Homo sapiens: one gene and its partner. The protein of the gene in region 1 interacts with the protein of each later gene in a pairwise test. Each region holds a gene or a part of one and is shown on either strand. Other genes may lie near its edges.

Region 1 (3,500 bases):
GTGACCTTCAGGGGAGAGAATGGGTCTAGCAAAGAAGATGAAGGATGAGCAGAACCCTCATCCATGGCACTCTCCCCCTTTCCATGACAGACATGCCAGGTCCCTTTATGGGTTCCATGCCTAAAAATAGATGTTGACTCAACAGATAAAATGATGTGAGTGACTAATCTGCCTCCCTGGCCTCCTCCTGCTGATGGAGTGAGGCAGCTGCCTTCAGTATCTCCATCTTCTAGAAACTCACGGGTGGGCTGGGAGGCCTCTGTGGGCTCCTTCTCAGCACATGGCTGAGATGTAGAGGGGCCTTTATATAGGGGGTCCCAGTGTGTGCATTTGCAGTGTGGGCTGAAGGACTAAGAACCCCATGTGACTGTCTGGACAGGGCTTCACTCCACAGAAGGTTCTCCCACCCCTGTTCTTTAAGGGACAAAGTGTGTCAATAGCAGAACTATTTTTTGAGTAAGAGGAAGAAGTGGAAGAAGGAAATAAAAACATCATAGTGATATGCCCATGGCAATGAGGGTCACCCTTGTTTCACCTTGCCAATTACTGACAAATTAATTATCCGAATGACATTTGTGCTCCCTCAAAACACAACCTACCACCTTTATACCTTTGCTCATACAGACATTTTTTTTATACCTACTTCCTCAAGTCCAAATCCTACTCCTCTTCAGGGCTCAGATCAAATGACATCTTCTCTAGGCAGCTTTCTCTAATCTCACCTTCTCCTAAAAATCTCCCCAGCAGTGTTCTCAATGAACCATGGTACTTAACCCGTTTCAACCTTAACTGACCACCTCTCCATCTAGGCTGATGATCTCTTTAGGTTGTAGGTCTTGTGTGTGTGTGTGTCCTATTCAACTCTGTGACTCTAGCTCCCAGCACATAGCCTGATACCTATAAAGTGTTCAACACCTACTGAAAAAATGAATAAACACCCACAGCTCATGAGAAATGATGTTGATATTATTGGCTCTTTGGAGTTAACTGTAACTCCAGTAAGGTGGACCACTGAGAGTCAGGCACCCAGAATCCCAGCTGTGTTTCTCCACCAAGCTAAGAGCTAAGGGACATATTTCCCATTTTCCAATGCCTGGGGCTGGAAGGACTGAAAGAAGATTGTTCTAGGACTAGACCTCACATAGAGGCCTTCTCTTAGCAAATATTTCCTGAGGATCTACTATGAGCCAGGTACAGTGGTATGTGTTGGCAACACAGCAAGAACAAGGCATAGTCTCTTGCTGTAAAGGAACTCCAAGTCCAAAGAGGGCAACAGACAACACATAAGAGGCACTCAATAAAATGTGTTGAACAAAAGAATGGATGAGTAAACATACAGACCAATTATCACAGTGCCACAAGATGTGTGTGTTATGCCAGGGATACATATGAGTGTGACTAAAACACAGAGGAGGGAGAGATTAATCAAAGGTTAAAAGGGCCGGGAAGGAGACACAGCTGAGCTGAGACTGGTGGTGAGAAAGGTGGTGGTGGAGTCAGGTAATGGTGGCCTGATAATAGCCTTCCTCTGTCACGAGGACAAATGAGGTGATGAAGATCAAGGGCTTAGCACAGTACCTGGCACCCAATAAATGCATAATGGATAGTCATGACCTTAACTCCCATTAGTTCTGCACAGCCAGAGCTAGGGTACAGAGGGAACAGGGTGAACCCTGCCAGGGAAGAGGAGCTGGCACTTGAAAGTTGGTGACACAACAAAAACCATTTCCCCAAAAGTTGATTCCAACATAGGTAGAATCTCAGCTAGGGAGAATTACTGCAACACATCTCCAGAGACAGACCCTAAATCCCCAAAGGCAGCAACAAATCCCAAAGGTGAACAGCACATCAATCATTCTCTACCAAGTCTAATTCCTGTTTAGTATTTCTCACCTATATGGAACCTTAAGTCTATTGTTCTCTCAGTTTCCTGTCCATGAAACCTGTGGCGTATGGATAAACAAAAATGACAGAAAAAAGATCTTCCTGCATTGAATATCCAAATGTTCATCCTAGTACCTAAAATTTTCAACTTTCCATATACATGTATTAAATTCTAACTGAATGACTACAGTGGTCAGGCCCTTGGTTAGGCTGAAAGATTTCCAAAAAATTGCCAATTTTCAGGGTCAGCATTGATGGCATATTAATGCCCCTGGGCCAGTGGCCTGGAGTCACAGGGCTTCCAACACTGGAGCCAGCGCCCTGGAGAACCCCCCTTGCCTCAGTCAGGATCCTGTTTGCTTCATTCATCCAGAATCTCTGAAGACAAGACTGGCATCTCTAGGCCAGCACTGACCTCCTTCTGGAACTCAGAAAGGGCTGGGAGTGAAGAAGCCACTCCTCTCTCTGGGTAGGGGTGGCTCAAAGCCAGGTGACTGTAAGCAGCTGACTTTACAGATGATCTCTATGGAAGATCTGAAGTCCCTCCAAGCTCCTCAGCTCTCCCCATCCCTGGTGCTCACAGTCTTCCCATCCTCCACCAGAAGGATGCTATAGCATCATGCTTATGATCCCTGACTGTGGGTCAGCTCCAGTACTCACTAGCTGCATGACCTTAGGCAAGTAATTTGATCTTGATAAGTCTCAACATCTTTGCTCGTAAAAAGGGGGTCAATTATCCTTTGATGGGTTATTGTAAGAACTGAGTTGATATATTTGTCTAGCACATACCTAGAACTTAGTAGATACTTACACATATTATTATGTGATGAGTCATACAGGCTTTTGTGGGCCAGCCTGGGAATCTAGCTCCCATTGGGACATACCCTCCAATTTCACCGGAAAAAAACCCCCAAAAAACAAACAAAAAAAACATGTGGAACACTACCAGGGAATGCCTGTAGAGGCACTGCCCTCCTCTGCCACCCTGGTGGGGTCTGGACCATCTTTTACCACTTTACTGACATGAATGTCCTCTAACACATTTCCACAGATCCCACTGCTTTATGCCGACAAAGTACTTTCCACTTTCCAAAGTGACTTCCCAATTCTGCTCTCAGCAAGTCTCACCAAGGTGGGTAAAGCAGGCGTTGTCATTCATCACAGATGGGGCATCAGGACGAGGGCTGAGGGCTGCCTCTTCCCATGCAGCACCCACAACTCCCTTTACCTGTTCATACACAGGGCTTGGCCTGGGCAGGGTGGGAAGAACAGCATGACCTGAGGAAGAATGTTCCCTGAATCATCCAGCAATACCTCACTCCTTGTCTGTCCTCCATAATACAGAAAAGGGAGAGGACATGGAAAACACGATAAAGGCATGTTGGGTGCAATGAGGAGGATAAAATGAGAGGGAAAAGGCATCCTTTTTAGCCCCAGAAAATTGCTCCTTTAGAAAAACACTGGCATTAGAAGATGGGAGTTCATTCATTCCTCCCCTTCCTAAACATCTACTATGTGCCAGGCCCTGGGATGGGTGTTGGGAATGTCTCTGCTTCACGAATCCCAGTCTGGAAAGGAAAGTAAACAAATGAAGCATGCAATACAGAGGGCTGCTT
Region 2 (3,500 bases), on another chromosome or scaffold:
TCACTTGGTGAGCTGTTCTGTGCTCTGGCTTTCCTCTGGCCCATAGGAGGGGACAGTGCCTGCCGCCAGGCCCTGTGATAGCGGATCTTCATGGTCAGCTTGTGCAAGGGTTGTTTTTTATTTAATTTTCTTTGACAGGGGAGATGACAAAAGAAATTGGGCAAAAATGGTCTTTAAAAAAAAGTCATCAGCCGGGTGCAGTGGCTCATGCCTGTAGTCCCAGCATTTTGAGAGGCCAAGACATGCAGATCACTTGAGGTCAGGAGTTCGAGACCAGCCTGGCTAACACGGTGAAACCCCGTAAAAGTACAAAAATTAGCCAGGCGTGGTGGCGTGCACCTGTAGTCCCAGCTATTCGGGAGGCTGAGACAGGAGAATCACTTGAACCTGGGAGGCAGAGGTTGCAGTGAGCTGAGATCGTGTCATTGCACTCCAGCCTGGGTGACAGTGAGACTTCATCTCAAAAAAAAAAAAAAAATCAAGTTTGAGAAATAACATTTTAAAAAATATTGACTTGGCTAATTCATTGACTTGTCTCCTTGTTCTCCTCTCAGAATACCTCTGAAAACTTGCAAACCCTGTAACCCACAATGAACGCAGTAATTTCATCTAAGTAGTAACCTGGGCACTGAGGGGGTGGGGAATCTAGCTCATTATTTAACATTTATTAAGTATGCTGTGTCCTAAACATTATGTGAAGCATATTAAAGGCAAAATGCCTGATCTCACTGAACTATGCTTTTTATGTATTTATATTCTGTCTTTAATTGGAGATTTCAAAGTATGTTAGACAGTGGACTAGATTCCTGTTGTATTAACTCTTTTAAAAGGGAGACCGAAATCTCACACAGTCACAGAGGACAAGACTCTGTTTTCTTGCTTTTTCACCGACTTTGATGCTCTTGGATGAAAAGTCCTGTATGAATACAAAGATTATCAAAGTCATAATTTGAATATTGGGTGCAATAAAGCCCAGGCTGTAAATACATCTGCAGGCTGCTTCATTGGGTACATTATAATTTTCTCTCTGGCGTTATTTGCACTTCGTCAAATTAGTACAGAAATTCCTTGATTTGGGGACTTACCCAGGATTTAAATCTGCTGTTTCAACTCCTGCCAGTAGTATGAGAAATCTGAACATGACATATCTAATTTACTTTCAGCCTTTCAGTGGGATCTACCTGAATAACAAGGAAGCAGGAATGTATCATTGCGTGTGCTGCGACAGTCCACTCTTCAGGTAAGATAAAGAATTGAGAGCCACGGAAGGAGACCAAACCTCCAGGTTCTTACTGCTTTGTTTCATTTGAGATCTTGGATAAATAAATACCCATAATACCCATTTTGTTTTTTAAATTGCTCTTCTCATTTTGCATTGTTGCTGTAAGGAGAGCTATTCATATAAGATACTTGCCTGTCTTGACTTTTTTTTCTAGCATTTAGAGCCATTAACAAGACTTCTTAGCTTATATTCTTCCTTTCTCTATCCTCAAGAAATAGCAAGGAAATAAAACTCAGTGGGCCCCTTATGATAAAGCTATTAGAGTTTTTTTTTTTTTAGAGGGAAAGTATTTAAAGAAATCTAAACCGTGATTATATTTGCTGGGCCATGTGATTAAAACTCTCTCCCAGGGAAAATGGGTTTATAATTTAATTTAGGAAATGTAGAATTTTATGAGGATAGATTCCCCACAATGCTTGACAGTAGCGAATACCATACCCTCTTCTATATAGCTAAAAGTAAACTTATTTGTCCCTTGATTTCAAAGCCTCTTTTAAGTCAATCAGGATCTGAAATCTCTCAACAAAGGCTTTTTTGTTTAGACATGCAGGAAACAGTCTTAAAAAAAAGTAGATTCGATGGAGAAGAAAGGAAAACATCTTTGAAGTCCTATTTTTCAGAACTTCAAAGATGTTTTCCTTTCTTTTGCATCAACCCTAAATTGGTTTAGAATAAAATATAAATCAAGCCAGCTCTGTGCATTGCCCATTAGGCAGTGCTTCCTTCTGTCCTCTGGGCTTTGAGCAGTCTGGGCCTTCCTGCCCGGCTGGCTGCTAATGTGGGCTGCCTTAGGAAGCCGGACCCGCCTGCAAGGATGAGGAGCGATTAGCATCGATTTTCCTCCGTGCTCACAGATGGGCAGGCCTTTGCCCGGATGCATTCACGTTGGCATGGGGGAAACTAGAAGGAGGTTAATTTTTGCACAGTAAAATGTGGGACTCAGGTTTCTGAGACAATAGTTATTTCTTGACCTTTGGTTGTGTTAAAGAGGAGAGGTAGGATTTTGAGATGGCCCATGAGCTTTCAGCCATAGAACCATGCTGCCAGCGTGTCAAGGGCTCCCTTGTTACCGCAGGCACCAGGCAGTGCTCTGTCTCCCTCTTTGCACTGTGAATACAGAAGATAAATCATCCTCGCAAGAGCATTCTCTTAAATCACAGTCTTCACTCTTCCCCTTCCTTGATGTTCCGGTTTCTGCATCTGAAAAAGGGGGGGACTTCTTCCCTTCCTTTCACCTTGCAGGCTTAGTTGTGGTGTCAGAATACTGGAGCCAGGAGGGTCCTGAGTCCAGAGCAGAAAGCTCTGTCCAGTAGAACTTCCTGTGGTGATGGAGATGTCTGTATCTGGCCATGTGGTAGCTGCTCATCACATAAGCTTGTTAAGCACTCAAGGTGTGGCTAGCATGGCTGAGAAGCTGACTTTTTCAATTTAATTTTAATTAATTTAAACTTAAATTTAATTTTAATTAATTTAAACTTAAATTTAATTTTAATTAATTTAAACTTAAATTTAATTTTAATTAATTTAAACTTAAATTTAATTTTAATTAATTTAAACTTTAATTTTAATTAATTTAAACTTAAATGTAATTTTAATTAATTTAAACTTAAAAGGCCACATGTGGCCAGAGGCTACTATATTAGCACAATGCTAGTTCAAATTAAGGAAGTTAAGTGACCAACTCCAGGTCCTGGAGGTTGTGAAGCAGCCAAGACTAATAGGAAAACCAGCCGATTCTCCAAAAGCCCATTGACCAAGTGGCCAGTTTATGAGACTGCCAATTCACTAACTTTATTTGTTTTTGTGTAACCATTTAGTTTGAGCTGAAAAGTTTCCATTTTGCATTCTTAAAGACTTCTGAGTTTGTTTCTCTTCCCCTTTCCTGTTGCTGCTACTGCAGCTGAAGGAAATAATATATTCCTGAAGATTATTTATGTTCCAGAATATACTATTCTTAAAGATGCACTCATTTATGGGAGAGGCAGTAGAATGGTTAAGATTGCCAAGGTGTATATCCTGGCTCCATTGCTGTGTGACCTTGAGCAAATTTCTTAACCTTTCTGTGTCTGATTTCCTCACCTGTAAAATGAAGATAATAGTACCTAATTCATAAGGTTGTTGGGAGGATAATCTGAGTCATGAATTAATACATGGAAAAGCATAGAGCAATGCCTGACATGACTGACTCAGGCCAGGCACTTGATGCAAGTTAGTAATG

Evidence for each region. The genes of interacting proteins can lie anywhere in the genome.
Region 2: the proteins of ELAVL4 (region 1) and MSRB2 interact in binary tests that used the Homo sapiens proteins (3 or more experiments, as listed by UniProt).

The regions. Positions count from the first base shown.
Region 1 is NC_000001.11:50,188,920-50,192,419, reverse strand, and holds part of ELAVL4 (ELAV-like protein 4), read right to left. Parts: intron 1-3,500. UniProt on the Homo sapiens protein: RNA-binding protein that is involved in the post-transcriptional regulation of mRNAs. Plays a role in the regulation of mRNA stability, alternative splicing and translation.
Region 2 is NC_000010.11:23,109,079-23,112,578, forward strand, and holds part of MSRB2 (methionine-R-sulfoxide reductase B2, mitochondrial precursor), read left to right. Parts: intron 1-1,163; coding exon 1,164-1,240; intron 1,241-3,500. UniProt on the Homo sapiens protein: Methionine-sulfoxide reductase that specifically reduces methionine (R)-sulfoxide back to methionine.